2 linked regions of the Homo sapiens genome follow. The protein of the gene in region 1 purifies or fractionates together with the protein of each later gene. This does not show direct contact. Each region holds a gene or a part of one and is shown on either strand. Other genes may lie near its edges. The genes, in order: SETD7 and RNF111.

Evidence for each region.
Region 2: the proteins of SETD7 (region 1) and RNF111 purify together in Homo sapiens (affinity purification with western blotting, with the first as the bait; one study listed by BioGRID). This does not show direct contact.

Annotation. Positions count from the first base shown.
Region 1 is NC_000004.12:139,546,124-139,549,947, forward strand, and holds part of SETD7 (histone-lysine N-methyltransferase SETD7), read right to left. Parts: intron 1,997-3,824; exon of another isoform or gene 1,896-1,996; intron 927-1,895; coding exon 797-926; intron 1-796. UniProt on the Homo sapiens protein: Histone methyltransferase that specifically monomethylates 'Lys-4' of histone H3. H3 'Lys-4' methylation represents a specific tag for epigenetic transcriptional activation.
Region 2 is NC_000015.10:58,993,911-58,997,734, forward strand, and holds part of RNF111 (E3 ubiquitin-protein ligase Arkadia), read left to right. Parts: intron 1-3,824. UniProt on the Homo sapiens protein: E3 ubiquitin-protein ligase. Required for mesoderm patterning during embryonic development. Acts as an enhancer of the transcriptional responses of the SMAD2/SMAD3 effectors, which are activated downstream of BMP.

The sequences.
Region 1 (3,824 bases):
GAGAGTAAAATAAAAGAAATCCTGTTGTGAAAAATACTGTAACTAGAGGTACACTGTGGAAAATCATAGTTCTGACATTAGTATTAAATTATCACACAAAAAGACCAACTATCCCAAAGACAGGCATTTAAAAAATTGAAGTCTAGAGAGTTGCCCTCCTGTGTGTACCTGTTTATGTCTTATTACTGGGACTGCAATGATGTGGCTTTGAAGAACTTTGCCAAGCATTTTTTCATCAATCTCATGAGGAGAGGCAACAAGCTGAGAAACCGATGAAGCAGAAGAACCAACAAGGTGGCAGAATCTTGCTTCGGGGTACTAAGATGCCAGATTGTGACATCTGGGAGAGTGTGCTGAACGCAATAGAGTGTGTGTGACCCTTGGAAAAAAGTGTGAATCTGACTTTACTGGAACTGTGCAAACTGGCCACTGACAAAAACGATCCCCACTTGTGTGACTTCAGGGAGATGCGCTACCGGAATGATCAAGTGAAATCCATCAAAGAATTGGGTGACCATGTAACCAACTTATGCAAGATGGGGGCCCCCAAATCTGGTATCTTTTGGCCAAGCACACTCTGGGAGACAGTGATGACAAGAGCTAAGCCTTAGGCTGGCTGTCCCATAACCACAGGGTGACTTCCCCAGTCACCAAAGCAGTGCCTACAGGTAGGGGTTAATTTTACCCATTGAATAAATTGTAGAAAAACTTCCACTTGAATTCTTTCGTTTGTATTAGTCCTTAACATAAAATAATTCGGTACCCCCAAAGAACAAAATAAAACTGTGAGTGCTACCTGCCATCAAAGAAGAAGAACTTCCCCCGTCCGTTCTTTTCTCCGTGAACAAAGTTCCCCTCAAATCTGTCTGTGGAGGAGTAGGTGACTGTGCAGAACCCGTGCGGTAATCCGTCATCGTCCAGGTGCCCTGGAGAAAGGGAACCACAAGGCAAACCTTAACATCTTCAGTGCTCCTCCCATCTGACGTCTAAGCATTCAGATGCTGCCAGACAAGTCCCCCACCCAACTCCCCTCCAGCTGCCAAAGGGTCCCCTCCCTGGAAAGAAAGGGTAGTCAGCGTGCAAAAGTTTCTCACCTCATCGGCACCAGCAGTACCAAATTGATTGTTATGTACACTTTGTGAACTGATAGGTCCAGAACAGACTTAGACACATTCCAGAATATGAACTTTAAATAAGCTTGCTTTTTACCTGGAACTGAGAGTCATTATCAGTAATATTATCTGCAGGGCATGTCACAATTTACCAAGTACTCTCCCGAGAGTCCTCATATTTGGAATTGATGCCTCCAATCTCTCATGCTTAACTGAAGTGTGGTTGAGATTCCACTGTTTTATAGTCAATTGCCACATACACAGTCTTTGGAATAAATTATCTAATTCTAGAACATTAAGTATGCAATATGATTTTATACATCATTCTATAATATGATGTGGAGGACTGCTAGCCAGTCTGAAAATCTCACTGTTATTGTTATATTCACACAAGGAACAGTGTCATATCTTTAAAACTGCCCTAAGATTTATATAGCTCATTGTACAAACACAGAAACCCAGAGTCCTTCTCACCTTAAACTTAAGCTTAACCTTAAACCTACTGGTTTACTTTACAAAATCTTTCAGCTTTGAATGTTTAGTAATAACCTTATCCTATACCGTCCACCACTGTGTCTCAGAGGGCTTGTGTTTTAAATGGAGCCAGAGTATGCACATGGTCATTTAAGCAATGATTGTGAACATCAGCAGAAGTTATTACATGGACTTTTAAGTCACTGGTTATTCCTAGGTCAAAGATTGGTATAGTTTAATACTGACATTTACAGTCAATGTTTATGCTTTTTATTACTATCTACATGTTTTACAAAACCCAGGAATCACCTTATTGGTGTCTTCCCAATCATTCTGGTGAGCTGATTTTGCAGAGGTGGGTGAAAATGAAGGCAGTAGTTATTCTACTGGCTTTTTCTTGGGGTAATAACCTGGGTCATGGAGAGAAAAGGTATGAAAACATTAAACACTGTGTCTAATGCAGGGACATTAAACATTGAAATGTAGCTTCCAGATGGCTCACAGACATAAAAGGCAACACAAACCATACTACCACAGTGAAAGCTTTAGTCTCCTCAAATAATTTATTCTAACATGATAAAAGAATATTAGCCCTTGGAAAAGATGGTAAGTACACACTCTTATAAAGAATAAATATGCGGCCGGGCATGGTGGCTCACGCCTATAATCCCAGCACTTTGGGAGGCTGAGGTGGGTGGATCACCCTAGGTCCAGAGTTTGAGACCAGCCTGGCCAACACAGTGAAACCCCGTCTTTACTAAAAATACAAAAAATTAGCCAGGCATGGTGGCGGACGTCTGTAATCCCAGCTACTCAGGAGGCTGAGGCAGGAGAATCGCTTGAACCCAGGAAGCAGAGGTTGCAGTGAGCCAAAATTGTGCCACTGCACTCCAGCGTGGGCAACAAGAATGAAACTCCATCTCAACAACAACAATAAAAAGAATAAATATGCTCTTTATTTGTATCATTAATTACATAAACATAAAATAGCTGCAAACAACTACAGTGTTTTATTGCTACATCTGACTCTGTATACAATGGGTTACCTAGAACATCTTACAATAAGACACATCTACTTAAATAAATCATAATCAATATGGATCCCTTCCTCTTAACACAAAAGAGGAAAGGCCCAGGAAATTAATGGTCAGAAGGGAACTAGGCCATAATTGCTTTCTTCTCGCTCAAAAACTAATTGTACATGACATAAATTCAATGACATTTGAGTCATATGAAATCACTTGGACAATTATTTTCTAAATATCTGATGCCATTTCTCTCATTGAAATAAATTAAATTTGCTTTTTTCTTTTCATTAAAAAAAGCCACTCAGTGTATTGCTAAGAGCTTTTTTTAGTGAAATGTTGTTGCGATCAAGTTAAATTTAGGCATATAAATTCAGTGTCCTACTTTTGATTTAGGTATTAATATCCAAATAATCAGTTTAGCCTCATACTAGAGCATTTATTAACTTGTTGAAAATGCTTTCACCATAGAAAACAGTTCACATATTTCAGAGTTTTAAAAGCTTATGTTTGATAAAATGTGTTATTCCACTTTAGATTGAGAGAATTACAATAAATCTGAACACTAAGAAAAAAATGTCCAATATAAATTAATTTCCACCTTCCTTCAGCCCTGTGCTATTTCTGAATAAAACACTGAAGGTGCACCCTCAGCAATGGAATTTAGATATTAGGGAAAGTTGAAAGTGTCATATAACATACTGTAAGCCCTTGGAGGATAGTACTGATCCCAGTTGAGATGACAACAAAAATGTCAACTCCACTCCATGAAGAATTATTCCTTCCTTCCTTCCTCCCTTTTTGCCTCCCTCCCTCCTTCTCTCCTTTTCTTCCTTTCTTACCTCACTCCCTCCTTCCCTCTTTCTCTTCCTCCTTCCTTTATTTTTTAGAGACAGGGTCTCACCCTGTTACTCAGGCTGGAGTGCAGTGATGAGACCATAGTTCACTGTAACCTCAACTTGTAGGCTCAAGTGATCCTTCTGCCTCAGCCTCCAATGTAGCTGGGACTATAGGTAGACATCACCACAACTGGCTAATTTAAAAAAAAAAATTTTTTTTTGAGACAGAGTTTTACTCTTTTTGTCCAGACTGGAGTGCAATGGTGCGATCTTGGCTCACTGCAACCTCCGCCTCCCGGGTGCAAGCAATTGTCCTGCCTCAGCCTCCCTAGTAGCTGGGATTACAGGCACCTGCCACCAAGCCCAGCTTATTT
Region 2 (3,824 bases), on another chromosome or scaffold:
ATGGCTAGGTGTCAAGTCTGAATCAATGTTGTAGTCATTTCCCTTATTCATATGTACTATAGGGCACTCGAATAAATTACTTATTTTACTATCTTTTGACATCCCAATTTGTTGTTACTTAAATTTTTTTTTTTTTTTTTTTTTTTTAATGGAGTCTCACTCTGTGGCCCAGGCTGGAGTGCAGTGGCCCCATCTTGGCTCATTGTCACCTCCACCTTCCAGCTTCAAGTGATTTTCCTGACTCACCCTCCCAGGTAGCTGGGATTAGAGGTGCACGCTACCACGCTCAGGTTATTTTTTATATTTTTGGTAGAGATGGGGTTTCGCTATGTTGGCCAGGCTGGTCTCGAACTCCTGACCTCAAGTAATCCTCCCGCCTTGGCCTCCCAAAGTGCTGGGATTACAGGCGTGAGCCACCACGCCTGGCTACTTACATTTTTATTTTGACATAATTTCAAACTTACCGAAAGATTTAAAAAATAGTACTGAGAACTCTTGAATACTCATTATTCAGATTCACCAATTTTTAATGTTGTCACTCTTGCTTTCTTATTTTCTCTCTCTTTTTTTTTTTTTTTTTTTTTTGAGGTGGAGTCTCGCTGTGTTGCCCAGGCTGGAGTGCAGCAGTGTGATCTCGGCTCACTGTAACCTCCATCTCCCAGGTTCAAGCGATTCTCCTACCTCAGCCTCCTGAGTAGCTGAGATTATAGGTGCCCGCCACCACGTCCAGCTAATTTTTGTATTTTAGTTAGAGACGAGGTTTCACCCTCTTGGCCAGGCTGGTCTCAAACCCATGACTTTAAGTGATCAGCCTACTTCAGCCTCCCAAAGTGCTGGGGTGAGCCTTTGCGCCTGGCCCCTTATTCTCTCTTGAATCATTTAAAAGTAAATTGCTTACATTATGCCCATTACATTGCATTATGCCCATTTGTTTCTAAATATTCACTGTGTATTGTATTCTTTTGCGTTATCACTGCACCAGTTACAAAATTCAGAAAATTAAACTTTGATAATATTAATCTACAGCTCATTTTCCAGTTTTGTCGAATTGTCCTGATAATAGCATTTATCCCTTTACAGCATTTTCCTCATAGGACCCAGTTCAGGATCACAAAATGCATTTAGTTGTCATATCTCTTTAGTCTCCTGTAATGTGGAACAGTGCACCTAATAAGCAATCTGTGGGGATAACTTTGAGATAGTGCAGCTACTCTGCTCCTCATCAGATCATCCTGTTCCTCATCACTCCCCACATCCCCCAAGGCCCATGTAGCATCCATTGATGTTTCTTGCCTATGCTGATCTTTACTGATCTTTACTCTAATGGTTGGAAAGTGTTTATTTTGTAACTCATCCATTTTCTTCACTAATGGACATTCTTTTATAAGGAAGAGACATTCTTTTATCTGATTAATACAGAATTGTGTGTTTCCTGTTTTATTCAGTGGGTTAAATAACCCATTATAACCTTTATTTTGATGTTCAAATTGTCCCAGATTTGTCCATTAGGAGCCTTTCCAAGTGGGCTCCTGTGTCTTTTTAACATAACCTCTTGTTTTTTTTTTTTGACGGAGTCTCACTCTTGTCTCCCAGGCTGGAGTGCAGTGGCGCGATCTTGGCTCACTGCAACCTCTGCCTCCCGGGTTCAAGCAATTCTCTGCCTCAGCCTCCCAAATAGCTGGGATTATAGGCGCCTGCCACCATGCCCGGCTAATTTTTGTATTTTTAGTAGAGACGGGGTTTCACCATCTTGGACAGGCTGGTCTTGAACTCCTGACCTTGTGACCTCGTGATCCACCTGCCTCAGCCTCCCAAAGTGCTGGGATTACAGGCATGAGATGCCGTGCCCCGGCCTTTTTTTTTTTTTTTTTTTTTTTTAAGTATTTCCTGTCTTTCTGGCACAGCAAGATGTTGCAAGCACATCTTATTTCTTTCCTTTGTCAGTCTTGGAATGAGCCGTTTTCCATGGAACCCTGGTTCCTTTTAGTGAGCAATCCAATTTGCTGTTGTGTTATTTATATACAGGAATAATCTTTTTTTCATGCATCAGGACATCGCTAGGAAACTAAATTTAAATTAGATTTTTGATAGTAGGTTTATATTTCTTTGAAGATTTTATGAAGTAATCACGTAAGACTCAGCAACTTATTGTCATAAAGCAATTTTTTTCTTCTTTTCTTTTTCAAATACATAATGAGTTATGTTCTTAATTGTGATCATATGAAATGAGAAAAAATTGTGTGTGTATGTTTAGCCACTTAACTGTTTATTAAAAACCTGAAGTTTATACTTTTAACTATTTTTAACTAAGTCATCAAACATTCTAATCTGAAGAAAACTGTTGCTTTTTAAGAAACTTTAAAATGAGTTCAAAAAATTGGGCTGGGTGCGGTAGCTCATACCTATAATCCCAGCACTTCGGGAGGCCGAGGCATATGGATCCCTTGAGGCCAGGAGTTCAAGATCATCCTGGCCAACCTGATGAAACCCTGTCTCAACTGAAAAATGCAAAAAAAAAAAAGTAGCCAAGTGGGGTGGTGCATGCCTGTAATCCCAGCTACTTGGGTGGCTGGAGCAGGAGAATCGCTTGAACCTGGGAGGTGGAGGTTGCAGTGAGCCGAGATCATGCCACTGTACTCCAGCCTGGGCAGTAGAGCAAGACTCCATCTCAAGAAAAAAAAAATTAAAAAATTATGAAACAGAATTTTTGTATGTGATTGAAAACTCATCAGTACTTTCTTTTTTTTTTTTTTTTTTTTTTTTTTTTTACCCAGGCAGTTACTGTTACATCTTGGTATATTTCATAGCCAGTTTCTCACCTGTGTATGGATATTTGCTTTATTTACTTATTCAATCTAACTTAATGTGTGTTTTTTCAAAGTAATATTTTGAATATTTTAAATTTTCAACCAATTAATATCTGTACACGGTTTTAAAAGTCAGTTTCAAAAGACTTACAATGAAAAACAGTGGTTTCCTATGCAACTCTCCTAATCTCCTAGTTGTACTGCTTAAACAGAAACATTTTAGCTCTCAAAAATTATTTCTGTAGTCTATACCTTTATATTTATAAGTAGTATGCTTATATTTGTTTGTATTTACTTGTGTACTTATATTTCTACTAATATGCTTAATTTTTACTTAGTTTTCATGTCAGTTTAAGTGTCTTTTTTTAAGTTAATTTTTTCAGAGAAAAGTAATATATACAAAGTGTACCAAATTTATAAGGTACAAAGAATGTACAGGGAAAAAAAACAAGGCTCCTTGCCATTCTTATCTTCCTATGACCCAAGTCTTTTCTCTGAAGATGTATCTCTTTCCTCCTGTATTTTATATGTGCATCCAGAGTAGTGGTTCTCAGAGTGTGGTCTGTTGACTCTTGAGGTAGCTCTTCCAAGTGTTCAGGAGGTCTACCAGGTTGAAACTATTTCAGAATATTACCAAGTTCTCATTTTCTATGTAACTGATGTGAACACCAGTTGACATTTGCACTGATGGTGCAAAAAACAGTGGTGCATTAAACTAATGGCCCTGTAGCACAAATCAAGACAGTGGCCAAACTGCATTAGTAATCACTATGTTCTTCATGACTACACATTTGCAGTTAAAAAAAAAAAAAAAATCAGGGCTGGGTATGGTGTCTCACGCCTGTAATCCCAGCACTTTGGGAGGCTGAGGTGGCCACATCACGAGGTCAAGAGATCGAGACCATCCTGGGCAACATGGGGAAACTCCATCTCTACTAAAAATACAAAATTAGCAGGGCGTGGTGGCATATGTCTGTAATCCCAGCTACTCGGGAGGCTGAGGCAGGAGGATGGCTT